Homo sapiens: one gene and its partners. The protein of the gene in region 7 purifies or fractionates together with the protein of the main gene of each other region. This does not show direct contact. Each region holds a gene or a part of one and is shown on either strand. Other genes may lie near its edges. The genes, in order: INPP5A, NRAS, PPP1R16A, PXN, CALCOCO1, PRKACB and RABGGTB.

The links.
Region 1: the proteins of RABGGTB (region 7) and INPP5A purify together in Homo sapiens (affinity purification with mass spectrometry; 4 studies listed by BioGRID and IntAct, with this or other methods). This does not show direct contact.
Region 2: the proteins of RABGGTB (region 7) and NRAS purify together in Homo sapiens (affinity purification with mass spectrometry; 3 studies listed by BioGRID and IntAct, with this or other methods). This does not show direct contact.
Region 3: the proteins of RABGGTB (region 7) and PPP1R16A purify together in Homo sapiens (affinity purification with mass spectrometry; 3 studies listed by BioGRID and IntAct, with this or other methods). This does not show direct contact.
Region 4: the proteins of RABGGTB (region 7) and PXN purify together in Homo sapiens (affinity purification with mass spectrometry; 4 studies listed by BioGRID and IntAct, with this or other methods). This does not show direct contact.
Region 5: the proteins of RABGGTB (region 7) and CALCOCO1 purify together in Homo sapiens (affinity purification with mass spectrometry; 3 studies listed by BioGRID and IntAct, with this or other methods). This does not show direct contact.
Region 6: the proteins of RABGGTB (region 7) and PRKACB purify together in Homo sapiens (affinity purification with mass spectrometry; 3 studies listed by BioGRID and IntAct, with this or other methods). This does not show direct contact.

Annotation. Positions count from the first base shown.
Region 1 is NC_000010.11:132,540,787-132,544,286, forward strand, and holds part of INPP5A (inositol polyphosphate-5-phosphatase A), read left to right. Parts: intron 1-3,500. UniProt on the Homo sapiens protein: Phosphatase that specifically hydrolyzes the 5-phosphate of inositol 1,4,5-trisphosphate to inositol 1,4-bisphosphate, and inositol 1,3,4,5-tetrasphosphate to inositol 1,3,4-trisphosphate. Plays a crucial role in the survival of cerebellar Purkinje cells.
Region 2 is NC_000001.11:114,710,272-114,713,771, forward strand, and holds part of NRAS (GTPase NRas), read right to left. Parts: intron 1-3,500. UniProt on the Homo sapiens protein: Ras proteins bind GDP/GTP and possess intrinsic GTPase activity.
Region 3 is NC_000008.11:144,494,982-144,498,481, reverse strand, and holds part of PPP1R16A (protein phosphatase 1 regulatory subunit 16A), read right to left. Parts: exon of another isoform or gene 2,022-3,500; 5' UTR 1,288-2,021; coding exon 1,029-1,287; intron 506-1,028; exon of another isoform or gene 487-505; coding exon of another isoform or gene 265-486; exon of another isoform or gene 1-264. UniProt on the Homo sapiens protein: Inhibits protein phosphatase 1 activity toward phosphorylase, myosin light chain and myosin substrates.
Region 4 is NC_000012.12:120,209,947-120,213,730, forward strand, and holds the end of PXN (paxillin), read right to left. Parts: intron 2,883-3,784; exon of another isoform or gene 2,689-2,882; coding exon of another isoform or gene 2,656-2,688; exon of another isoform or gene 2,635-2,655; coding exon 2,368-2,634; 3' UTR 501-2,367; downstream 1-500. UniProt on the Homo sapiens protein: Cytoskeletal protein involved in actin-membrane attachment at sites of cell adhesion to the extracellular matrix (focal adhesion). Recruits other proteins such as TRIM15 to focal adhesion.
Region 5 is NC_000012.12:53,720,953-53,724,452, forward strand, and holds part of CALCOCO1 (calcium-binding and coiled-coil domain-containing protein 1), read right to left. Parts: intron 2,832-3,500; coding exon 2,641-2,831; intron 1,232-2,640; coding exon 1,073-1,231; intron 664-1,072; coding exon 515-663; intron 1-514. UniProt on the Homo sapiens protein: Functions as a coactivator for aryl hydrocarbon and nuclear receptors (NR). Recruited to promoters through its contact with the N-terminal basic helix-loop-helix-Per-Arnt-Sim (PAS) domain of transcription factors or coactivators, such as NCOA2.
Region 6 is NC_000001.11:84,234,771-84,238,270, reverse strand, and holds part of PRKACB (cAMP-dependent protein kinase catalytic subunit beta), read right to left. Parts: intron 3,092-3,500; coding exon 2,966-3,091; 3' UTR 1-2,965. UniProt on the Homo sapiens protein: Mediates cAMP-dependent signaling triggered by receptor binding to GPCRs.
Region 7 is NC_000001.11:75,789,256-75,792,420, forward strand, and holds part of RABGGTB (geranylgeranyl transferase type-2 subunit beta), read left to right. Parts: coding exon 1-101; intron 102-221; exon of another isoform or gene 222-292; intron 293-696; coding exon 697-802; intron 803-896; exon of another isoform or gene 897-1,019; intron 1,020-1,190; exon of another isoform or gene 1,191-1,262; intron 1,263-2,029; coding exon 2,030-2,082; intron 2,083-2,205; coding exon 2,206-2,316; intron 2,317-2,925; coding exon 2,926-3,051; intron 3,052-3,165. UniProt on the Homo sapiens protein: Catalyzes the transfer of a geranylgeranyl moiety from geranylgeranyl diphosphate to both cysteines of Rab proteins with the C-terminal sequence -XXCC, -XCXC and -CCXX, such as RAB1A, RAB3A, RAB5A and RAB7A.

The DNA of each region.
Region 1 (3,500 bases), on a different chromosome or scaffold from region 7:
CGCCCAGTCTCACCGTGTTGGAAGCCAAGCTCGTCTGTGACCAGTGCTGGAGCCGGTCACAGTTCCGAGGAGGAAGGTGTTTGAATCTGAAGCAGATATCCCGGACTGTGGCGGACTCTGTTTTCCTTTTGTGCACAAGTGATAGGTGGTTTGCTTTTGCTTTTGCAGTTTTGAAAGTCTCCCCTCTTAAGGCCCCTCCTCCTCCCCCTCTTGTTTTTGTTTTAGACAGGGTCTCATTCTGTCGCCCAGGCTAGAGTGCTGTAGTGGTGCGGTCACAACTCACTGCAGCCTCGACCGCCCTGACTCAGGTGAACCTCAGCATCCTAAGTAGCTGGGACCACAGGCACATGCCACCATGCCTAGCTAATTTTTGTAGAGACCAGGTTTCGCCGTGTTGTCCGGGCTGGTCTGGAACTCCTGGGCCCAAGCAATCCACCTGCCTCGGCTTCCCAAAGTGCTGGGATTACAGGTGTGAGCCACTGTCCCTGGTCCAGAGGTCACCCCTCTCAAAACGCTGCGTGCATCCACTTCAGCTGTGGTTTGTAGCATCCTGGGATCCACACGGAATCTCACTCAGCAGCCCCTGTTTGCTCATCACTACTCCATCTTTGTGACCCCAGATTGGCCATGCTGCGGGCTGCGGGGCTGTCCCCACTGGGGTTGTGTCTGACCCTGTGCAGACAGTGTTGCGGTAAATGCCTTACAGTGTACCGGTCCCCAAGCCCTTATCCCTCACTTTCCTAGAAATTATGGAGGACCCGAAAGAGTTCTTGTTTATGTTGGTTATAACTACCAATATTTCTCATATTGGGAGCTGAGACTGCATGAGAATACATAGCTCACTGCACTAGCTGGCAGAGCGATTACATCATCCCACATCACAGGCACCCCCTCAGGTGTTGGCCGTTCTTCCCTAGGAGACAGTGAGAATGGAAAGAGGAGTCATTTTGTAGTATTATGGAAATAGTGTTGACCTAGTCAACCTGTGAAAAGGCCTCCTCAGCCCAGTCCTCCCTCCCCATACTGTCATGGGCACCCCTGTCTCTGGCCAGGTGGCTGGGGTGCCTGGGACTTTCCCAGGCTTATGCAGACTGCCAGATCACCCTCGGTGAGCCCTGCAGCTGGTCTTTAATTCCTGGATTGGACTCCTGCTGTCACTACTGGTTTGCTTGGAAAGAGGTGACCAGGGGTCCATATTTAATTGTTTTGCTTTGATGTGGCTGGTTTTTTGACAAGTGAGGTTTCTGGCTTTTGGTTCCTTCCATTTTTATGAGAAGGGAATTGAGGAGGTGAATTCTTGCCAGCTGTGGCGTCCCACCCTTGCATGGTCAGGCTGCTGTTTGGTCCTGAGAACACAGCCCGCTGGCGGGTATCTGCCTGGTGGCCCTTCCTGCTGCTTGTTCGCAGCTAAGTCAGTTCTGAGCCAGTTTGCCTTTTTGCTTAGTCAGCTCCCGGGCAGCCCTGTCCCTCTGCCCAGACCCGGGTTTGCAGAACGGCTGTGAGAGTGGGCTCGGCAAGTGCTCGCTGGCAGGGACCTGAGCACCTTGCAGTCAGCAGGTGTTGAAGAGCCCTGGAAGAGCGTGGAGGTGGCGGAGCTGCTGTGGGTATGGAGTCGGTGATGGTCAGTGGTGCAGGCTGGCGTCTCTCTCTGGTAGCATCAGCATTGCCTTCTTTGCCATGTGGTTCCTGGCAACACCAAAGGTACTGCCCTCTCTCCCACCTTGAAAACTCTGAACTCCATGTTTCCTCCAGCCACTGCGGGGCATCCTGACTCTCTACCGTGGCAGCCCTCGAGTGGGGTGGGGGGGTCTCCCCTCCATGTCCTTCTCCAGGCCTCTGCCCCAGCACTCCTGCACAGCAGGGCCCAGGGCTGGGTGCGGGTTGTACCCAGCTGGCAGTGACTAGCCAGAATTTTTGCTCCCTCTGTGGATCCTCCTTCTTCTTCAGGGACGTTTCACTTGGTAATGGCTGTGCTGGGACAGAATTCGCACACCATGCCCCTCACCCATTTCTTTTTCCTTTTCTTTTTTGTTTTCACACAGGGTCTCATTCTGTCACCCAGGCTGGAGTGCGGTGGCTCACTGTAGCCTTGAACTCCTGGGCTGAAGTGAGCTGAAGCCATCCTCCTGCCTCAGCCTTCTAAGTAGCTGGGACCACAGGTGCACGCTACCACACCCAGCTGATTTTTTTATTTTTATTTTTTGTAGAGATGGGGTCTTGCTGTGTTGCCCAGACTGGGCTCAAACTCCTGGGCTCAAGCAGTGCTCTCATCTCTGTCTCCCGGAGTGTTGGAATCACAGGTGTGGGCCCTCACACCCAGCCCTTTCTCCCATATGAGGTGTACAATTCACTGGTTTTCAGTATGTTCACAGGGTGTGCAGCTGTCACCACAGGCAATTGTAGAACATTTTTATCACCTCAAAAAGAAGCTGCATTAGCACCCAAGCCCCACGTCCCCCAGCCTCCCCACCCCCTGCAGTCAGTTTTCCTCTCTGTGGATTTGCCTGTCCCGGGCGTTTCACATACATGGGATCAGACGGTCTGCCCTTTGACCTGACTGCTTTCACTGAGCGTATGTAAAAGTGTCCATGCTGCAGCGTGCGTCAGTCCTGCATTTCTTCCTTTCTTTCTTTTTTCTTTTAAATTACAGAGACGGGGTCTTGCTGTTCACCCAGACTGGAATGCAATGGTGTGATCGCAGCTCACTGTAGCCTTGACCTCCTGGCTTCAAGTGATCCTCCTGCCTTAGCCTCCTGAATAACGGGGACTACAGGCATGCACCACTATGCCCAGCTAATTCTTTTTACTTTTTGAGAAGATGAGGTCTCACTATGCTGCCTAGGCTAGTCTCAAAGTCCTGGCTTCAAGTGATCCCCTGGCCTTGGCCTCCCAAAGTGCTGGGCTTACAGGCATGAGCCACAGTGCCAAGTCTCTTTATTCCTGTTTATGGCTGAATAATATTCCATTGTGTGGATACACCAAGTTTTGTTTCTGTGTTCATCAGCTGGTGGATGTTTGGCCTGTTCCCTCCTTCCGGTTCTGGTGAACAGTGGATGTTTGGCCTATTCCCACCTTTAAGTTCGGGTGAACAGTGGATGTTTGGGCTGTTCCCGCCTTCCGGTTCTGGTGAACAGTGCTGCTGTGTGCATCTTTGCAGGCGTCCCTAGGCGGACATGCGTTCTCAGTGCTGTTGGGTGTGCATAGTCTTGGCATTGCTGGGTGACGTGGTGAGTTCGTATTTAACCCTTGAGGGCCTGTCAGGCAGTCCATGGTGGCTGCCCCATGTCACATCCCTCCCAGGGTTCTGGTTTCTGCACCTCTCAGTGTTGGCGCCCCTGGGCTCAGGCTGGCCACCCTTCTCCCTTCCTGGGACCTCATCTAGACGCACAGCCATAAGTGCCATCTCTGTGTGGGTGCCCACTCCCAGCGAGAAGCGCACAACCAGGATGCTAGCCTGCAGTAGGTGGGGCCCTGCTCTGCCGCTCCGGCCAGAGCAGAGT
Region 2 (3,500 bases), about 39 Mb from region 7:
TATATAATTTATAATATATAAATATATATAATTTACACATATAAATATATATTTATATATATTTATAAATAAAAAATATATATACAATATATATTATAGCTGGGTGTGGTGGCGCATGCCTGTAGTCCCAGCTAATTGGGAGACTGAGGTGGGAGGATCACCTGGGTCCAGAAAGGTCAAGGCTGCAGTGAGCCATAATTGTTCCACTGCACTCCAGCCTGGGCAACAGGAAAAAAGAAAGAAAAGAAAGGGAAGAAAGAAAAGAAAAGAGAAAAGAAAAAGAGAAAGAAAGTGAGAGCGAGAGAAAGAGAGAGCGAGAGAGAGACAAGATTTCAGGAAGGAATAAATGGCTAGGGCAAAAAAGAAACTAGCAAATTTTATGTAGCCCTATTAACTTGTAGTATTTTTGCTTTTTTCTACCACTTAGAGAAGACATTGTATACTAAGGAGACTGCTTTAGACTTGTTGCAGCAGCCATCAGGAAGCCATAAGTACAAGCTCACCTTCTAATGGGAGTGGATGGGTATTTTATCCTGATACATGACCTAGTGAGGCTCCTGGATTCTCCAAAGAGCTTGGCTCTGGATTTAACTGGCAACTAGAAATCACCCTTTAGATTAAGGTCTAAAGTATAAAAAGTGAAGCTCACTGCTGCTAAATAACTAGGTGTGACAGTATTTAATGGAAGGCAGTCTATCACTTTTCAAGATGGGTGGTGCTCAAACATTTTCTTCAAATAAATTGTAGATGAAGCTGGGCATGGTGACTCCCGCCTATAGTCTTAGCACTCTAGGAGATTGAGGTGGGAGGATCACTTGACCTAGGAGTCCGAGACCAGCCTGGGCAACATGGTGAAACCTTGCTTCTACAAAAAATACAAAAATTAGCTGGGCATGGTGGCACATGTGCCTGTGGTTCCAGCTACTCAGGAAGCTGAGGTGGGAGGATCCCTTGATCCCTGAGAGGTTGAACCCTGAGAGTGTCATGCCACCGCACTCTGGCTTGGGCAACAGAGGGAGACTCCATCTCTAAAAAACTAAAACAGGCCGGGCACGGTGGTTCACACCTGTAATCCCAGCCCTCTGGGAGGCCGAGGCGGGTGGATCACCTGAGGTCAGGAGTTTGAAACCAGCCCGGCCAACATGGTGAAACCCCAAGTCTACTAAAAATACAAAAAAAATTAGTCAGGCATGGTGGTGGACGCCTGTAATTCCAGCTACTCGGGAAGCTGAGGCAGGAGAATCTCTCGAACCCGGGAGGCGGAGGTTGCAGTGAGCCGCGATCGCACCACCGTACTCCATCCAGCTTGGGCAACCAGAGCAAAACTCCGTCTCAAAAAAAAAAAAACAAACAAACAAAAAAAACAAACCTAAAACAAAACATTGTATCTGGAAGCCCAAGCGATAAAATAGAAAACATAAGAACTGCTCTTAGTAAAGGGAGGCTGAAGCATCTAGAACTCCTGACAGCACCCCTTTCAATGACATGTAAGGCACACCACACAGCACACCTGGGAAACAATTGCTTTAGATTGTCTTGACCAACACAATCCAACAGTACTTTATGTGATGATGGAAATGGTCTATATCTGTACTGTTCAACATGGTACCTACTAGTGGCTATTGAGCATTTGGTAGTCAAGGAACTAATTTTTAAATTTTATTTAATCTTAATTAACTGTAAATAACCACATACTGCACAGTACTGTTTTAGTCTCTACCCCTGGATTACCCACAAAGTCATGTATCTGAACTACATTCCACTGGCTATTTGCAAAACTGTGCTTGATGGTAATAGCCTACATTAAGGGATAAGACAGCCTAAAGTACCTGGACCATGTCACTGTCAGGTTACTACTGATTTTTACATTAAACAAGCCTCTTTGAGGATCCATGGGAAAATTTCCTTCTAGTCCGAGCAACTTAACGGCTTTCAGCATACAGATACTGAATCTTTCAGCTGGCTACTTTCCTTTTCACAACAGTGACCAAATTTGTAGTCCACCTTTAGAAAGCCACTGGAACTTCATGCACAATCACAGAATATGCTCACTCCTAAATTTGTTTATTTTACCCTTATTTTTTTGGTCTCACTTAAGCCTATTTTTCATTAATCTTATCTTGCTCTACTATATGCATTTTCATAAGATGTTTTAAATACTCTTTGGTTTGAGCTAAGGCATATAGAAAAATGAATAAATTTCTTGTAAGAAAGAAGAAAAATGACTTCTAGAAATTCAAAAAACATTTATTAGATGCATGCCAAGTGTGGGCATTTTATTAAGTACTGCTATTACTTTTAGACAAAAAAAAAATGGGAAGTACAACAGGTTAGGAAAAGAACACTTGAATTCAGTGTTGGACCAATCTGCTTTTGAGAGCAGACATCTTCACATGGATAGAAAATAAGCCAAGACTCAAGCCTTTAGGCAGAACACTTAAGTAGCATTTACTGTGTGCCAGGCACTATTCTGAGTGATTTGCGTATTTATTAAAACTGTAATCTTCACAACTCTATGAGGTAGGTATTATTATTTCCATATTATAGGTTAGGAAAGCCACATAGCCCCTGAGTCACGTCGCTAATAAACAGAGCTAGGTTTCAATCCAGGCAGAGTTCTCATTCTTAACCATTATATTATTCTGTTTAAGAACACTGTGCTAAGAAAAAGGAGCTTTGGGTTTTTGGTCCTGGCTCTGCTACTAATAACAATCCTGACTCCAAAACCTAACAAACGACATTCTGAACTCTGTTTCTGATTCTGCAAAATAAGAATATTGTACTAGAATTTTTATGGTCCAATCTAGCTTTGAAACTTTATGGTTCTATGGACAAAGTCTATCTTTATGTTCCCTTGCTTTGTTTTCATCTTTATGGACTTCCTATTTGCTTACTCCTATCATTTTATTTTTTATTTTTTTTGGAGACAGAATCTTGCTCTGTTGATTAGGCTGGAGTGCAGCAGTGCAGTGGAGTGAGCATGCCTCGACCTCCTGAGCTCACGTGATCCTCCCACCTCTGCCTCCCGAGTAGCTGCCACCATGTGTGACTAATTTTTTTATTTTTATTTTTGTAGAGACAGGGTCTTGCTCTGTTGCCCAGGCTGGTCTCCAACTCCTGGGCTGAAAGTGATCCTCCCGCCTTGGCCTCCCAAAGCACTGACATTCCAGGTGTGAGCCACTGTGCCTGGCCTATCTTTTCCATTACATACTGAAAGATGTTTCTTGGAGATGTTTTCCTCTCTGAAATTCCTTCGTGATCTCTAATTACAACAACTCTGGTTCCAAGTCATTCCCAGTAGCAAGCTTCACTTATGTATTATCAAACTTTATAGTAACAGTATATTATGTAAAATAAATTCCAGTATTAACTTTCAGTAATTACCCTAGATTCTCAATGTCAAACAACCTAAAACCAACTCTTCCCATAATTAAAAAGCTCTATCTTCCCTAGTGTGGTAACCTCATTTCCCCATAAAGATTCAGAACACAAAGATCATC
Region 3 (3,500 bases), on a different chromosome or scaffold from region 7:
AATCCCACACCTCCCTCCAGCCCAGGAAGAGCTCCCTGCCTGGAGGCTACCACAGCTCCTTCGGCTCTTCCCTGACAACCTGCCAGCCCTGTGTTCATGAGCTCTCCTGGGTCCTCTGGGACCTGACCTGAGGCTCCCCACCACCAGAGCACATCCCTGCTCTCACTCCCCTCCCCATCAAAGATCCCAACTCGGGCCCAGCTCTCGCCCAGGTCACCAGGGTTCTCCCTGACGGTGCCTGGGGTGCAGCAGGAGGGCTCCCACCTTCCCACAGCTCCCTGTGGACCATGGCACCCTCCGCCTCTTCCCTCTGCCTCCAGGCCTCCCGGGAGGGCTCCTGTCCACATGGAAAGATGCAGGCCAGACACTGCCGGCTCCTCTTTACTCTCTGCTCCGGAGGGAGGCAGGAAGGAGTCTCAAGGGCCACCACAGTGCCTCTTCCCCCAAGACTCCAGAGCACCAGAAGTGGAACCCACACAGCTGGGGCTGCAAGCGTGGGGCACAGGTGAGGAGAAGAGAGTCACAAGCAGAGCCTAGGGCAGGCACTGAGAGGGGGCCACCTGCATAGCTCTGTGCCTGCCCAGGGCCTGGCTCTCTCACCCACAGAGGTGGCTGGTCCCACCCTATTTCACGGAGGTGGAGACCAGGGCTCTCCTGAGCAGCCTAACAAGAAGCAGCAATGACTACCGGCCACCCCTGCTCCCGTGGGGCCCCGCACTAGGTTTTTCTGCAGGCTCCTGGGGGTCCACTCATGGCCTCAGCTCACCTCACAGCAGGAGCCCTCTGCATGCAGCCCCCGCCTGAAGGACGGCTGTCCCGCACAGGCTCACCTCAGGGCTGCCCACTGCTTGGGGCTTGCCTGATGGGGGCACCCTGGGCCACCCAGCCTGAAGAGACCAGGCAAGATCTGGGGGCTGGAGCCCAGGAGCTGTGGACAGGCCCAGCCCCCAGCCTTGGCATGAGACGGCACCCAGGTAGCAGGGAGTGGGCCGTCTGCTGGGAGCTGCTCTGGGCTCAGCCACACTCACCTTCTTCCAGGTCATTTCGGGCAGCGGCCTCCAGAAGGACAACACTGGGAGGGAAGAGGACCTGCTTCAGGAGCCCTTGGCTGGCTGCCTCCTTCCGGGGACGCTCCCCAGGACCCTTCTTGCCCTGGGCCTCCTTCTCAGCCTGGGCCCACATCTTCACCTGCTGGGCGCGCCGCTTCTGGGCATGCTTCAGCCGCTCCTGTGTGCTCATCCTGCCCACCATGGGCATCTCTGCCAGCAGCTCCAGGTGCTCGGCCATGGCGGCGGCTGCTTGCCCACAGGGCTGCTCGGGGCACCAGAGTGGGGAGCTTGGGGGCCAGGCTGGGCCTGAGGGGTGGGGCAGCTAGCTGGACTGGCACCCTCGGGGGCATCCCCTTCCCAGAGCTTCGTGCCCTTGGCTGGGTCAGGAGGCCCCACACAATAACCAGGCCCAGGCAGCCCTGGGGGGCATGGGCCGGGGCAGGGAGGGCAGTGTGGGAGGGCACCCCAAACCTGCTCCCCAGGCCAGCCTCTAGCTGTCGACAAGCAGCGCCTCGCCTCCCTCTCGGGGTCAGGGTGCACAACCTATGGGAGGCAGCCCCGAGACCTGGCCGGCCTCAGTGCAGGGTCTGAAACTAATTACCCAGATAACAAGGTTCCAGCTTCCGGGCACCCTGCTGAGGGGGAAGGGAGGGCAGGGCCAACCAGCAGTGAGAGCCCCTGTGAGCCCCTGAGAGTCCTCTTTTCACCTTCTAGGCTCAGGAGCCTGGGTGGGGCCTGGGAGCAGCCATGACCCAGCCCCCAACCCCTCCCAGCTGTGTGCCGAGGTCAGTGCATCAGTACTAACGAGGAGGTGCAGCCGCTGAGGCTGGGGGAGGGCAGGTAGTCAGAGTCCTGGAGTCCTGGCCCCAGGGCCCAGGGGTGAGGCTCTCTAGGCAGCCAGGGCACCAAGGGCACAGGCGGGCCGGCCGCAGTGTCTTCAGGAGCACCTCCTCTTCCAGCAGCTGCTCACACCTGAGAAGTGGGGAACAAGGAAGCATATCAAGGCCGGCTTGAGGCAGGGTGGCCCGGGGGAGCCCCTGCCCTGGGCCTCAGGTGAGACCAGGCTTCCAGCTGTCTCAGGTCCTGCCCTGTGTGAGGCCCACCCTTTGTCCACAGAGAGCACTGCAGGTCAACAGTCCTGGGGGTACGGGGAGCTACTCTGCCCCCATTCTGCCCCAGGTTCAGAGAGGGGCGGGGGAAAGGCATGTCAGGCTCCTCCCACCCACCCTTTCCAGAAAGGGCCGCCCACCCCAGCGAGGCGTTCCCTGCTAGGCTGCTCCTCCAGGGCCAGGCGCTGCCCTAAGGCTGGGCAGGGTGAGGTCTCGTGGAACAGCCTTGAGGGCTTTGCAGGCTACTGCCTTCCAAGGGCAGGCCCCGCCTCCTGGGCCTCCACCTCTCCTGCCTTCCAAGGGTAGGCCCCGCCTCCTCCTGTCCTGACTGATACCCCAGCCTCTCACTGCCCAGTCTCTAGACCTCTTCCTTGATGGGCTCCCACAATGCCTCTGCCATCCTAGGCTGCAATAAAAGCCCCCACCTGGTGCCTGGCTTGAGGCCTATGGGGACAGACAGGCAGGCAGACAGCTTCGGCTGGGGCACAACCCTGCCTATGTACCTGCTATGGCCCTAGTCCTGCCCGACACACTAAGTGTGGTTGCTGGGCTGGCCACAGGCCTCACCTCAGAAGGCACTCTGTGCTTGGCCAGGCGCGGTGGCTCAGGCCTGTAATCCCAGCACTTTGGGAGGCCAAGGCGGGTGGATCACGAGGTCAGGAGATCGAGACCATCCTAGCTAACAGGGTGAAACCCCATCTCTGCTAAAAATACAAAAAAAATAGCTGGGCGTGGTGGCACGTGCCTGTAGTCCCAGCTACTCGGGAGGCTGAGGCAGGAGAATGGCGTGAACCAGGGAGGCAGAGCTTGCAATGAGCCAAGATCACGCCACTGCACTCCAGCCTGGGTGACAGAGCGAGACTCCGAGAAAGAAAGAAAGGAAGAAAGAAAAGAAAGAAGGCACTCCGTGCTCTGCAGAAGATGCCTGCCAGGAGTCCTATTCTCCACCCAGCCAGGCCTCATGGCCATCTACACACTGACCCAACTCTTCACTGCTGGACTTCTACCCAGGTGTTTCATAGAATGCCCCCTTCTTTCAGAAAGGGAACTGTCCTGGGCCAGGTCAAATTAAGCCAGTCAGGTCCTTCCTGCTCAGGGGCCCCCAATTTATCTGGGAGCCCCACTTTACAGGTTCAGCCTACTCTAGACATAGTCCCCCCCTGTAGGCCTAGCCTCAGAGGCTTCCTGAGGACACGGCCAATAAGGCCAGTGGCCCTGACCTGGCTTTCTGCCTGCCAAGTAAAGAGCTTTTCCAGGCAGTAACTCTCCCTCCGAGCAGCCTGCTCCTAAGCCTGGCCAGCTCTGTAGACCGCAGAGGCCAGGGCAAGCACACACTGGCCAG
Region 4 (3,784 bases), on a different chromosome or scaffold from region 7:
CTTCGGCAGGGAAGGGGCTAACCCACGTTGTGTGGGCTCAGGCACGGCCGCGTCTGGTTCTGTGCAGGAACACAGGCAGAGGCAAGCCCTGGGTCCGCATCATGGCTCTGCCCTCACTCAGATTGCCTTGTACATGTAGGTTCTTGTCCTAGAGCCTCTTTCCCTACTTCTAAATGAGTGGAAAGCCACCCACAAGCCCGTGAGTGAGGATGCCCTTGGTAAACCCAGGTGATCACACCCTGGGCAGGCCCTGCCCCACAGGGCCCCATCCCGCTGCTCCCCAGCCTGTCCTCACCAACTGCCCAGGCAGGAGCAAAGCCCACGGGGAGGACCTGTGACCACAGGCAAGGACCACGGACCCCAGCCCCAGGGATTTTGACCTCAAGAAAGGAAACATCCACAATTTACCCTCCATCTGGTGATCCAGCTGCATCTGGGGTGGGTTTGGTCTCTGCTGGGACCATGAGGTTCAGACCACCAAGAAATAGCACTAGCACAGGTGAAAATCATGGGCAAACTTTATTGGCATAAATCACAGGAATTGAAATGGGAAAAGCCAGCTTGGAAGTTTACAGAGAAAAAATAAAATCAAAATCAAATTTTCAAATAACCACTGACTCAGAGAATGGACCCCAGAAACCCCAGTCCCTCTTGGGGAAGATCTAGGGTGGGTCACTATAAACAGAGCGGTAAGGCCTGCGGGTGAAAGTGGAGACATCAGACCTTTGGAGGGGCTGGGCTGACCTTCCCCCAAAAAGGAGGGACCCTCTTCGGAGACCCCAGCACACTCGGCTTCTGCCAGGAGGCCAGTGGAGTGGTTTGGACTGTCACCATTAGACCCCGGTGGGGCCCCTTTCTCCTCATCAGGAGCCCAAGGCCTGGCTCCTCTTTCATCCTTGGTAAAGAGCTCTGGGGGGTTTCCCCAGAGGAGCCTGTCCCTCTGCCCCAAATCCTATCATGCTCCCTTATGACCTTCTTTCCAGACCCCCTGAGTGCCGATCCCACCTGTGAAAGGGGAGGAGCAGATCTGGGGAAGGGATATGCCCAGAGGAAATCAACAAGACCAAAGAGACGTCAGAGTCCTGATGGCCAAAATCAGACACCAGCTTTCCTGAGAAGGCAGAAGAGAGAGCCCCATAGAAGCAGTGGGGGCTCAGAAGGTTCAGTGGGTTCACAGGGGAGCAGAGGCTCCTGAGGGCTTACTCAGACAGGAAGCAGCCCCCCAAAACATACTTCCCCTTCTCCTCCCACAGAAACAGAACAGATAAAGTTCAGAATTCTAGGCCCAAAAGGGTGCAACACCCTTCAACCAGTTTCAGTGAAGAGCTTGCTGGCCTGGGAAGTAAAGAAGGGGTTTCCAAATACAGCAGTTTATAAAACAGTCCTGGTGAGCTATGAAGTGAAAGAGGGGGAGTCACAGAGCTGCTCCCAGTTCACCTGCTTGTGCTAAGAAACAATAAAATACAAATTGCTTCCCCACCCCAACCCTCAGTACAAAGCAAACTTCACACCAGAGCCACCATCAGTGACAGGCCCAGTGGCGGTGGATGAGGAAGAGAATACAAAAGGGAACGTCTTTAAAATCTCTTCAAAATCATTTTGTATAGAGAAGTAAAAGCAACTCAGGCGATATGAATTCAAACCTCAGTGTAGAAATCTATCAAAGTCGGTACAGTGTCCAGGCACGCCGTCCCGGAGACGGAGGAAGTGACTAGAAAACATTATTGCTGGAGAGGCTTTTCTCAGTAGAACAAGAGCAGGTATAAAAGGGGAGGGCGGGTCTAAAAGGCAGGGGCAGTCGCCAGGCCTAGGGCACTGGAAGGGTAGGAGGAGCACAGAGAACCTTCCATGGCCCCTTTGGTTCTCTGCCTTTGGATGGATGGATTTATGCTGGCATTGTCTGGAGGGAGCCGGGTGTCCCCCAATAATCACAGAACAAAGACAATTAGGTCGGGGGAGGAATAAGGATAAAAAGAGACCCCAACAGACCCTGCCTGCCCTTCCCTGCCCCCCGGCTGCACTGCTGAAATATGAGGAAGAGATGGCTCCAGTGTGGGGTGCTGGCCAGGCCAGTTCGTGGGGACGTACATGGGCTGGGGTGGAGCCCCCAGCCTCTACCCCTGGGGAGGATGGAGAGTGGGCAGCCTAGGGAGAGCTACAGGAGGGAGGAGGGGGCCCAGAGGCTCTGGCAGGGGTGAAGACAAGCAGGGGGACCCCTCACGGCCCTCTGTCCATCCCGCACCAGCGGAGGACAAGGGTTCCAGTTTCAGTCGGGTTTACCCCTTCACCCCCGGGTGAAGTCTCTAGGTCACAGTCGCAGTTGGGGATGCTGGCTGGGGAAGGGGGGCAGAGACAGGGGCAGGGCACCTAGCAGAAGAGCTTGAGGAAGCAGTTCTGACAGTAAGGCTTGTCGTTCTGCTCCTTGAAGGTGCCCTTGTTGAGCTGCTTGAGGCAGAAGGCACAGACGAAGTGCTCGGGGTGGAACTTCTTGGCCATGGCGGTGATGCAGCGGCCGGTGATGGGCTTCTGGCAGCCAGAACACAGCGAGCCGCGCCGCTCGTGGTAGTGCACCTCACAGTAGGGCTGCCCGTCGTGCTCGAAGAAGCTGCCGTTCACGAATGGCGTGAAGCATTCCTGCCAGGCGGAGAGAGGGGCTCAGGGAGCTGCCCCTCGGGCTAGAGCTGCACCCTGTGTGATGGGGCCGAGGTGGGCATAGTCGGCACGCTCGGAGTGACTCCTACTTGCTAGGCGTTTCCCATGTGCCGTGTTGTCCTAAACGCTCATTTTTCATTTTTATTTTATTAAATAAATTTTTTTTGTAGAGATGGGGGTCTCACTATATTGCCCATGCTGGTCAAATGTGGCCTCCTGCAATCCTCCCACCTCGGCCTCCCACAGGGCTGGGATTATTTAGTTCTCCCAACAGGGGAGGCAACTGAAGCACACAGGTGAAGTAACTTGCCCAGGGTCATGCAGCTACTGAGGTCACAGCCTGGATTCATACACAGGTCTGACTCCTGAGCACTTAGCCAGGTGGCTGTAACAGTGTTCCCAGAAACACAGGTGTGACACTGGTCTGTAGTCAAACTCTGCCTCCTAGATTCTCATTGGAGATTCACATCACATATAGGTAGAAAAGGCTCTGAGAGGGGCCGGGTGAGGTGGCTCACACTTGTAATCCCAGCACTTTGGGAGGCCAAGGGAGGCGGATCACCTGAGGTCAGGAGTTCAAGACCAGCTTGGCCAACATGGTGAAACCCCGTCTCTACTGAAAATACAAAAAATTAGCCAGGCATGGGGGCGTGTGCCTGTAATCTCAGCTACTTGGGAGGCTGAGGCGGGAGAATCACTGGAACTCAGCAGGCAGAGGTTGCAGTCAGCCAAGATCGTGCCACTGCACACCAGTCTGGGCAACAGAGTGAGACTCCGTCTCAAAAAAAGAAAAGAAAAGAAAAGGCTCTGAGAAGTCCTGCAGGGAACAGTGTTTCCCAAACTCATTTGGTCAGAGAGCCCTTGTTGAATCATTAATAACCCCTGTGGGGCCCCCAGAATGCAGTGGTTTTGGAAACCACTGCCCATTTCTGTTGAGTCTGCTAAATACTTGCATTATCTCATTTAGTTCTCACACACTCTCCTCCCAAATAGGAATGGCCCAGGGCCGCTGCACAGGGCTGGACTGGGGGACATGTCTACCTTGCTCCTGGTTTGTCCCAGCCTCAGTACAAACCCTGGCCCAGGACCTACTGGACTGGAGGAAGGAGATCCCCTGCCTGCTCCCCCAATT
Region 5 (3,500 bases), on a different chromosome or scaffold from region 7:
TAAAGAGGCTGCCTCCTGAGGGTGACCTCTTACATACCCTCATACATATCTTACAATCCCAGTGCTAAGAGTTTATGATTTGCATCTTTTTTTTCCAGGGCAGAGATTCCATAACATTCCTGGATCACCAGTTATAATGTTTCTTAATAGTAAGAACACAGTCTAATCTTATCTTTCCTGTGGCCACATCTGAAATCCATCCTCTCTTATCTTGCACTGACTTCCATCCATTCTCTTCTTCCAAATCCTCCACTCCTAGCTCTTGCTCAGCTTTTGCTGTACAATAAGTGGTAACTATGATTATTTCTGAAGTGGAGGAATACAGAATAGCATTTGGAAAGATGGTAGAGAGCTCGGCAGAAAAGGGTATCCCCAGTAACTAGCTTGAGTGAGGGTGAGAGGGAAAGAGAAAGCGTGTGAGGCAGACAGCAGGTCTGCTTGCCTGAGAGAGGGGGCTGGAGTGCGGGGGTCATGGAAGGGAGAGGAAGTGACGGGGTCAGTGGACTCCCCTCACCTGTCCAGCTCCACTTCCTTCGTCAGCACTTTCTCACTGATGGTCTGGATGTCATCCTCTAGCTCCAGGATGCGTGCCACATGGTCTCCCTGTTGCCGGCTCAGGATGTCCCTCTCTTCTGTGATCTCCCCATGGGACCGGGAAATCCCCTGAAATTAAGTTTCCCCCAGAAGAAAAGGGAGGTTGGGACTCATCTCTCAAGTGGTGGAACAAAGGCTTAGGAAGAGCACACCAGGGTCTGACTGCTTCCACCTGGCTATCACATTGCCTTCCTTGAAAAAGAAACTGTAAGGGAACATTCCCTTACCTATCAACGTGGCCACCTCCACCTTACCCCAGCATTCCTATGTTCAAAGAACTGAGTCTCATTACACGTTTGGAACATGTCTCTTGTCACATCAAGTTTAATCCCAGCCACTACCCCTTAAACCTATTTCCTTGATGCCAGAACCATTGTAAAAGCCCACTAACATCTCTCCTTCACCCTCTTCACTGGGTTCAGATTTTGGATGCTGGGTGAGCAGCCAGGCCCTGTCCCCTACCTGGCCCAGCTCCCACCTTGTACTGTTCCATCAGCTCCGTGTGCTCCTGCCTGGCAGTTGCCAGAGCCCTCTCGAGCTCCTGCACTCGGCTCCTCAGCTCTGTCACCTGTCCCTCCAGCTGTAGCTTCAGCTGCATCAGGTCATTCCGTTCTTGCTGGCTCTCATCGAGCTGGTTCTACAGGCAGCAGAAGGAGAAGGGGAGTGTGCTGGTGGAGTACCCCTTCTAAGGTCCCATCCTCACCACTCTCCAGGTGCATTTTGGGTTTGGGAAGTTACATAGCTTTGGGTTATAAAGAGGTGAGGAAGGGGATGCTCAGTGTGCTACCGAATCCCGTCCACCACCCAGTCAGATGCACCAGCTCATGGCACTCTGAATTGCCCATCTCTCTTACCCCTCCCCACTCTAGGCCTGGCCCTTTCCTCATCCAGCAATTGCAGGAATCCCTCATGTGGCACAAGTCAATGAACACAGACACAAGGGATGGGTCCCCTAATTTTACCCTATCTGCTCTGGAGTTGGACAGACTTGGGTTCAAATCTTCAGTGCAATTTTTACTAGCTATGTGATTTTTTTTAAAGATAGGGTCTCACTGTGTTGCCCAGGCTGGAGTGCAGTGGCTAGCCATAGGTGCAACCATAGCATACCATACCTCAAACTCCTGGCCTCAAGCCATCCTTCCACCTCAGTGTCTCCCCCAGTAGCTGGGACTACAGATGCATGCCACTACACCCAGCTAGCTATGTGATTTTGAACAAGCTTCTTAACTTCTCTAAGTCTCTGTGTCCTCATCTGTAACATGATCCCTTAGTCTGAATTGTTGTAAGGCTCAAATGAGAATCACGATTGTGAAACCGCAACAGAGAGTAGGAGCTCACACATCTTTCACTTACGTGAGATATAAACATCTTCCTGGGTGACAGAGCAAGGCTGTCTCAAAAAAAAAAAAAAAAAAGAAAAGAAAAGAAAAGAAAAACCCAAAAAACAAACAAAAAAACCCCAAACAGTATCATTTCAACATGTAGTCAAAATAAAAATTATTGAAGTCTTTTACATTCTCTTTAAAAAATACTAAGTCTTCAAAATCTGGAGTATATTTTACCCTTATAGTACATCTCAGTTTGGATTAATTGCATTTGAAGTGCTCAAGAGCCATATATAGTTAAGAGCCTTTGGTATTGGACAGTACAGGTCTGGGGCCTTGCCTATCTGCTCTCACTCCCCACTCGTCCTAGAAGCAGGTCCTGTGCTCCCCTTTCTCTGAATGTTCCCTGGAGTAGCCTCTCTCCACCCTTTGATCTTCCTCTAGGGCATAGGGCAGGATGCAGTGCATGGAGAAGGAAGGCTGCAAAAGTTCTTATGAAATCCTGAGTTACACTGGCCTGTGGGTGGTCTCCTTTCCTGCCTTACATGTTCGTGTATGTCTATGTTAGACTGAGACTCTCCTGGAGGCAGGACTTTGTCTAACTTTCAACGAGGTCTTTAGTTGGCGCCACAGATGAGGGGAGGGTAAGGTGGGAAGGGTCCTCTTGCAATGCTGTCTCCCACTCCCTTGTCTGGGAATAACTCTGTTGCTCTTTTCTCACCTGTAACACAGTTGCCTTGGGGACAACCAGCAGGATGTCAGAGCCCCCATCAGCCTCCTCCAGGGTCACCAGTTCATCCATGGGCCTTGGCTCTCGGAACTGGAAAGGGGGGCTCTGCCCACACACCTGGCCCTGGCGGTTCACATATCGGAACTGGTAGAGCTGAGCTCCTGGTTTGGGCAGGTAGCTGGCTGTGGGAAGAAGAATGGACCCAGGACCCCAATAATCCACTGTCCTTGGCCCCAGCCCCTTGCTCGGTGTTCCATATACTGTTTCTTCTCTTCTCCACCTCCCACAGGCCATACTCTTCTCCCTCCTTTCTGCCTGTCCCTCTCCTTCCTTTCTTTCCCAAACCCACTGCCCCTCTATCATAATCATAATAATGCTAGTTACCATGTAGTGAGTGCGTACCATGTACCAGACACTGTGGTAACACTTTTTATTTTATTTTATCTTGAGACAGAGTCTTGCTCCATCGCCCAGGCTGGAGTGCAGTGGCGCGATCTTGGCTTGTTGCAACCTCTGCCTCCCGGGTTCAAGAGATTCTCCTGCCTCAGCCTTGTGAGTAGCTGGGACTACAGGCATGCACCACCACGCCTGGCCTGCAGCTTTCATTTTAAATCCTCGTAATGTCCCTATAAGCCAGGCATCCCCTTTTACTGTTAAGATAACCGACACAGGGAGGTTATGTAATTTGCCCAAGGCCAAACAGCTTGTAAGTGTTAGAGGTGAGATTTGAACCCAGGTCTTTCCCTCTTCTCACCACATAATTCTACCTTTCCCTCTTCCTTACTCCCCCATTTTTCCTTCTTTGGGTAGGACAGGGGACTAGATGCCCTCTGAAGTTCCTTCTGTTTCTA
Region 6 (3,500 bases), 8.4 Mb from region 7:
CAGTGGGAAAGATTTTTTTTTTCAGGCTTACAATGAGTATTTTCAGGCCAATGGGCAGTTAACACAAGAATATACCAAGAATGAGACAGCAATACCCATAAGCCACAATATCGTTTTTGGTAGGTTGACAGTTTGATTCAACTGGGTATTCAGCATCGGTGAGTGAGAAAGGAATTAGGACAGACACCAAGGCTCTTATGATATTCAAATAATTTTAAGAACACTGTCAGAGATAAGAAGAAAGATGCCCTAAAATATATTGCCTTATTGAGACTTACTTCAAAGCAATATACCCTTCAAAATATCAGATAAAAAGACAATCTTGTCATCGACTGTGAAAGTTAGGAGGAATCTTACAAACTGCCTAATCCAGTTCTTCCATTTTACAGACAAGAGAACTGAGGCTGAGATCATACTGATAGTTTTCCAGCCTGAAATTCAGATGTCTTGACTTTCAGTCTAGGGCTCCTTCTTACACAATGCCATCTCTTAATTATTTACTGAGCATAACATAATATCTTCTGTTTCAAATATGTAATTTTAGGTTAAATACTGATTTATGCTACTTACTTCTTATTCAAGTTTTTATCTTATTCTTGGCTAAATTGTGGCTGAAACTGGGAATGTTACATACTTTAAAAATATTCTAATTTAGTGTACTTGATTGGTCAGAAATTGACTCCCTTGACATATTTGCTCATGACAAGCTTGCTCACGGCCTTTAAATAGAGAGTAAAATGGAATGGCTGAATAGCCCTCAAAACCAACGTATGTCTAGGGATCATCTACCTAAGGTAGATTCTACAGCTGGGCACTAGTAATTTCATAGAAAAAAATATTTTTTAGAATTCATAGAAATCTTTTTGATTACTGAAAACTAAATTGTAATAATCAAATTGTCATCCCCATGACTTATTAAAATAATTTTACAATAATATACAACAAAGCTACCATAGAATTTGTAGTTTACATATAGAACACATTGGTCAGCATGTTCTTGGGTCTAAATGAAATACAAGAAAATTAAAATATTTTATACGAATGATGTTTTAAATTTATTAACATGACGATATGCCTTTGTTACACAAAACTTGCTAGAGCAGAGTATTTTATTTTTTTCTTGCACGTTTTAAATATAGATGGACCAGTGAAATCAATATCAGCATTTACATGACATTACCATGCAGAAACACTTGATAACCGAAAGACATATAGATTGGTAGAAAGAACATCTCAGACAGGTTTTTTTTATGTCTTCAAAGGTTTCACCAGGGTGTGGTACAGATGAAAAGAAGTGGTGTTAATGACCTACCTGCACCGATAATAAAGCAAATAGAATGATTATATACATTAAGATCAGCTTGATTAAAAATAAATTTTATATGCAGGTAAATTGATCATTAAAATGAACCCAGTTTAACTCTTCTCGTGTGTTGTTTTAAGGTAGGTCACTGAAACGCAGAGATAAAATCAGATGGGGAAAATTAAAAGCAAAGAAAAAAATAGCAAAACAAGTGGGTTAAGCCATGGATTCTCAACAAACACTGAACTAAATGTGCAAAAGTGCTTGAAATTTCCACCTGACAGCAATGTTGTTAAGTCAGTTGGCAAAAAAAAGTGTAGGAAAAAAACTAACCTCTCAAATACCAACATTGTATCTGCATGATCGATCAGACATTCTGTTTACTGAGAGAACAGAGGTTAGAAATTATGAAATATCTGAAAATATCATACCTCAAAATTAAAATACAATTGTGGCAGTTTTATACACTTTGTTCCCTTTCCTCATTGATGAGGCATGGGATGAAAGCAGAAGTTGCAGCAGTGCCCCTACCCTAGGCTCACAAATATAGTACACCACAATAATTAGCTGGAAACAACTTCTTTTTAACGGTTACAAAACAAAACAAATGTAAACCCTCATTTAAATATGAATACCTCTATATTGTTTCCAAAAATCAAGCCATTTTTGACTTTGCAAAGTATAAGTATTTATCTAAACCAATGTTCTTTTTAGTTTGCTTATTTTCCTTTAAAAAGTTTATGATGAGGACTATTAGAGAAAATTTAAAATTTGTCACTTTCATTAATCATGTTCTATTAAAATACTGGCTAAAATCCTTAAGGAACAGTTAAGGTTTAGAAAACTTAGAACTCTTCTCTAATACCTACAGAAATGCTGGTACCAAGTGAGAGAATCTGGGTGATGATCCATATCATTAGTTTTTCCTGCTGAATGAGACACGTTTGTCACACTACACAGGCTGGTCACTTCATTACTCAAGGAGAGGAGGATATAAAAGGAGGGAAAGGGAACTAGAACCTCTGATCTACAGCCTTCCAAATTTCTGGGTCTAGCTGTACTGTATTAGTCTACCAAAATTTATTGCCAGAATAGTGAATTCCAAGAAAGTTAGTCTTAATTTGTATAAATTTCCTTGGTGATAAGACAGTCTATCTTCAAAAATTACCAAGAGTTTTGGCAAAACCAAGTCTGAGCTACTCAAAGAAATAATAATTATTAGAAAGTTTATCTTCAAGCCATTGACCAACAACAATATTGGCAATAACTACTGAAAGCAACACTTATCCTTCCCTTCAAATATCACGTAGCCATAACACTGCCCATCTGAAACACCAACAAAATAAAATGGAGCACTGTTTAGAGAAAACCAATGAAATTGGAAAAGGAAGAAATGGATATAGGAGAGGAGAAAGACAACCCAAAGAGAAGTAAGAAAGTGGTCTAGTACTGTGTTATGGCACAGACAATGCTTGCTTAGCGGTGCCTTGTTACATAGGTGGATGCAGAGTGCGCACACGGGATGATGGCAATAAAGACCTCACTCAGTCGTTGGAATGAAGGAACTAGGTAACTGCTTCAACAAGGACGGTCTCAGCTCTACCTTATCTCTCAACAGAGTGCAAACACTGAGTGTGAGCTCAGATGTCATCTTGTTCCTCTTTAAAATTCACCAAATTCTTTTGCACATTTTTCTGTTATAGAGACACGGATATCTTCTTCTTCATAGTCATCAAAGTTGCTGGTATCTCCAGAGCCTCTAAACTTTGGTATGAATGGAGCTTCAACCTATAATTGAGAGGGAGAGAAAAATAAGAAAAAGGAAAAAAAAATTCCTGAGAGTTTCCAAACACCAAGAAAAATAAATTCCCACTGTTATTACACGGTGAAATCCTTAGATGCCATTAGGTTCCTAAAATATAATAGTGCTAGAAGAAGCAGCAAGCAGTAGGTTAGCTATTAACCTCAACATTTTGATTCAAGGAAGTATGCAGGTCAACAAAATACTTAAGAAATTTCTGGGATAAGAGGAGAAGCCAAGATGGCCGAATAGGAACAGGTACGGTCTACAGCTCCCAGCGTGAGGGACACAGAAGACGGGTGATTTCTGCATTTCCATCTGAGGTACCAGGTTCATCTCACTAGGGAGTGCCAGACAGTGGGCGCAGGTCAGTGGGTGCACGCACCGTGTGCGAGC
Region 7 (3,165 bases):
AGATTCTGGCATTTATTAAGTCTTGCCAACATGAATGTGGTGGAATAAGTGCTAGTATCGGACATGATCCTCATCTTTTATACACTCTTAGTGCTGTCCAGGTAAATACTAATCAAAATTGCAACGATCTTGATAGTATGTTCTCTTACTTCAGAGTTGGAAATTGAAACTGTATCAGGATTTGGTCAAAAAGTTTTGTTACAAGTGAAGCTGTCCTACAAGGTCAATGATGTAATGGCATGTATTAGCTGAATCTAAAGTTGATGTGAGTTCTAAAATTACACTGAGACCTTGGAGGGTAAAATTTTTATCTTCAGTATGTGTAAATACTGTAAAATAGCTAAATGGAGCTATTTGATTTTGATATTAGTGAACATCTACCTGGTGGTTTAAAGTCTTTCTGGTACTACTGGGTGCTGAGATGGGAAGATCAGGACTTTGTGTGGATGTGAGTTAGTATACTTGAGTATCTTGGAATGCCAAGTTAAAATTTATATGTAGAAAATTATACTTTAAAGATTTGAGTTTTCTTGATACTATCTAATTTTATTCAATAACAGGAGAGTCTGCATATTTGAGAAAAGGTTATATACACAGAGACAAAAGGATGTGCTTGACAACTTAAAAAGAGTTGAGCATAAGATCATTAGAATAAACCTGAAAGGGACATTTACCTAATACTTGTCTTTATTGCAGATTCTTACGCTGTATGACAGTATTAATGTTATTGACGTAAATAAAGTTGTGGAATATGTTAAAGGTCTACAGAAAGAAGATGGTTCTTTTGCTGGAGATATTTGGGGTAATGTCAGATTTAGTCCATTCTACCCAAAATACCAATATTAAAATGTACTGGTTTTGCTAGTAACCAGTTTATAAGTTTTTCATCTTTTCAGGTCCCACTAAGCAGCTGGTCTAACTGGAGTTAATGGTCTGCTGGAACTTCCAGCATGCACTGTGGTAGTTATATCAGCATATACAGGAGCACTGGAACAGAGGGGGCCAGTCTAAAAGATAAGGTAGGTGGAATTTTTTTCCCCAATATTTGGTGGCTTTGTAAAGTTTTTTAAAAACTACTTGCTGGAAAGGGAAAAATATTTAAAAAAAAAAACTTTACAAACTTGCTGAATATTTGAGTGGAGGGAGGGAATAGAATTTTATTTGATAAACGTAGATAATCTCTGCTTTAGGGATGAACACAGTGCAGGCCAGAGAGACCAGCTGCTTCATGGGATGTGAAAAATCTACTTTTATAAAGTAGGGTAAGTTTATTTCATTATTAGAAATGGACTAATACTTTGGGTTCTATTAGTTTTCTTCTCTTTGGTTTTCTTCTCTTTCTGGGCTTTCTTTAAGCAGCTTAAGATAATTTGCTGTTACTTTTTTGTGGCAGGGTCTTGGCTCTGTCCAGGTTGGAGTGCAGTATTTTGGGAGACAGTTGCTGGGGCTGGAGAGCTCTGTTGCCCAGGCTGGAGTGCAGTGGTGCAATCTTGGCTCACTGCAACCTCCACCTCCCAAGCTCAAGCAATTCTCCTGCCTCAGCTTACAGAGTAGCTGAGATGTGCACCACAACACCTGGCTGGTTTTTGTGTTTTTAGTAGAGATGGGGTCCCCTGGCCTCATGTGATCCTCCTGCCTCGGCCACCAAAAGTGCTGGGATTTCAGGCCTGAGCCACAATGCCCAGCCCCACCTAATTTTTTTTAAAAAGTTTTTTGTAGAGATGGGGTCCCATTATGTTGCCTCGGCTAGTCTCAAACTCCTAGGCTCAAGTGATTCTCCCACCTCAGCCTCCCAAAATGTTGGAATTATAGGCAAGAGCTACTGTGCCTGGTCAATTTGCTGTTATTTTTGACAAAGGAATTTTCTTGGGAAGTAAAGGCACTTCAGATTTAGCTTTCCTCCTGACTACCCTAAAGTGAAAGTTAAGCTTGAACTCAATTTAAAGTGGTAGTTGTGCAGTGTTTGTTTTTAGATGACTCATGTATGATTTGGTAACACCTGCCTTGATTTGATCTATTTTTATTGTAGGAGAAATTGACACAAGATTCTCTTTTTGTGCGGTGGCAACTTTGGCTTTGTTGGTAAGCTTTGAATATTTGATTGAAATGATTAAAGTTCATGAATACTCTGGAATTTTTTTTTTTTTTGAGTCTGATCTGCTGAATACTCTGGAATTTAACAGGCATCTTTTTTTTTGTTTGTAGGGGAAGCTTGATGCTATTAATGTGGAAAAGGCAATCGAATTTGTTTTATCCTGTATGAACTTTGACGGTGGATTTGGTTGCAGACCAGGTTCTGAATCCCATGCTGGGCAGGTAATTTATGAATACAGATGAAAATGTATTGTCATTTTGGAAGCCAGTGTAGTAAAATAAGAAAATTGGTTATTTCAGTGTTTGTCAAATACACATAAAGTTAATTCGACTGTAATAGGGCATCTTACATAAGAATTGCTTAATTGCTATCATTACTTTGCTTTATATACTATATACCTTTCTCTGTCGGTGGATTCGTCTGACCTAAGCAAACATAAGTGGGTTTATAAGCACCAAAACACTTTTGTTTTCCATTAATTTTTCACTAACCATACAGATAAAAAAAAAAACAACACATTTTTCTTTCTTTCCTAAGATAAATTATGAACCTCTTTTCTTGTGCCAGAGAACACTGAATATGTGAATGGATGGCTGTGAAATACTAGCCATGAAGAAATTTTGACAATAATATTTCAGTGCAGAATTGCATACTAGTAATAGTATGCTTGGATTTTTTCAGATATGTGGTATTAATACATGTTTGGAATTTTAAGTGTCAGATCAAGAAGAAAAACTTAAGATATAAAGTGGTGTTTTAATAATTTGAGTTTTATCACTTTTAATGTCAAGAAATTATTATACACATAAACTTTATGTCTGTAATTTTAGATCTATTGTTGCACAGGATTTCTGGCAATTACAAGTCAGTTGCATCAAGTAAATTCTGATTTACTTGGCTGGTGGCTTTGTGAACGACAATTACCCTCAGGCGGGCTCAATGGAAGGCCGGAGAAGGTATTGTTTGATAAGCCATATTCTGCTAGCTTTAGAACCTTGAGTGAATGCTGCTGCTTTGTCTTGCCTGTTTCTATATTGTAAATTGGCCATGAGCTTATTTATTACCTTTCC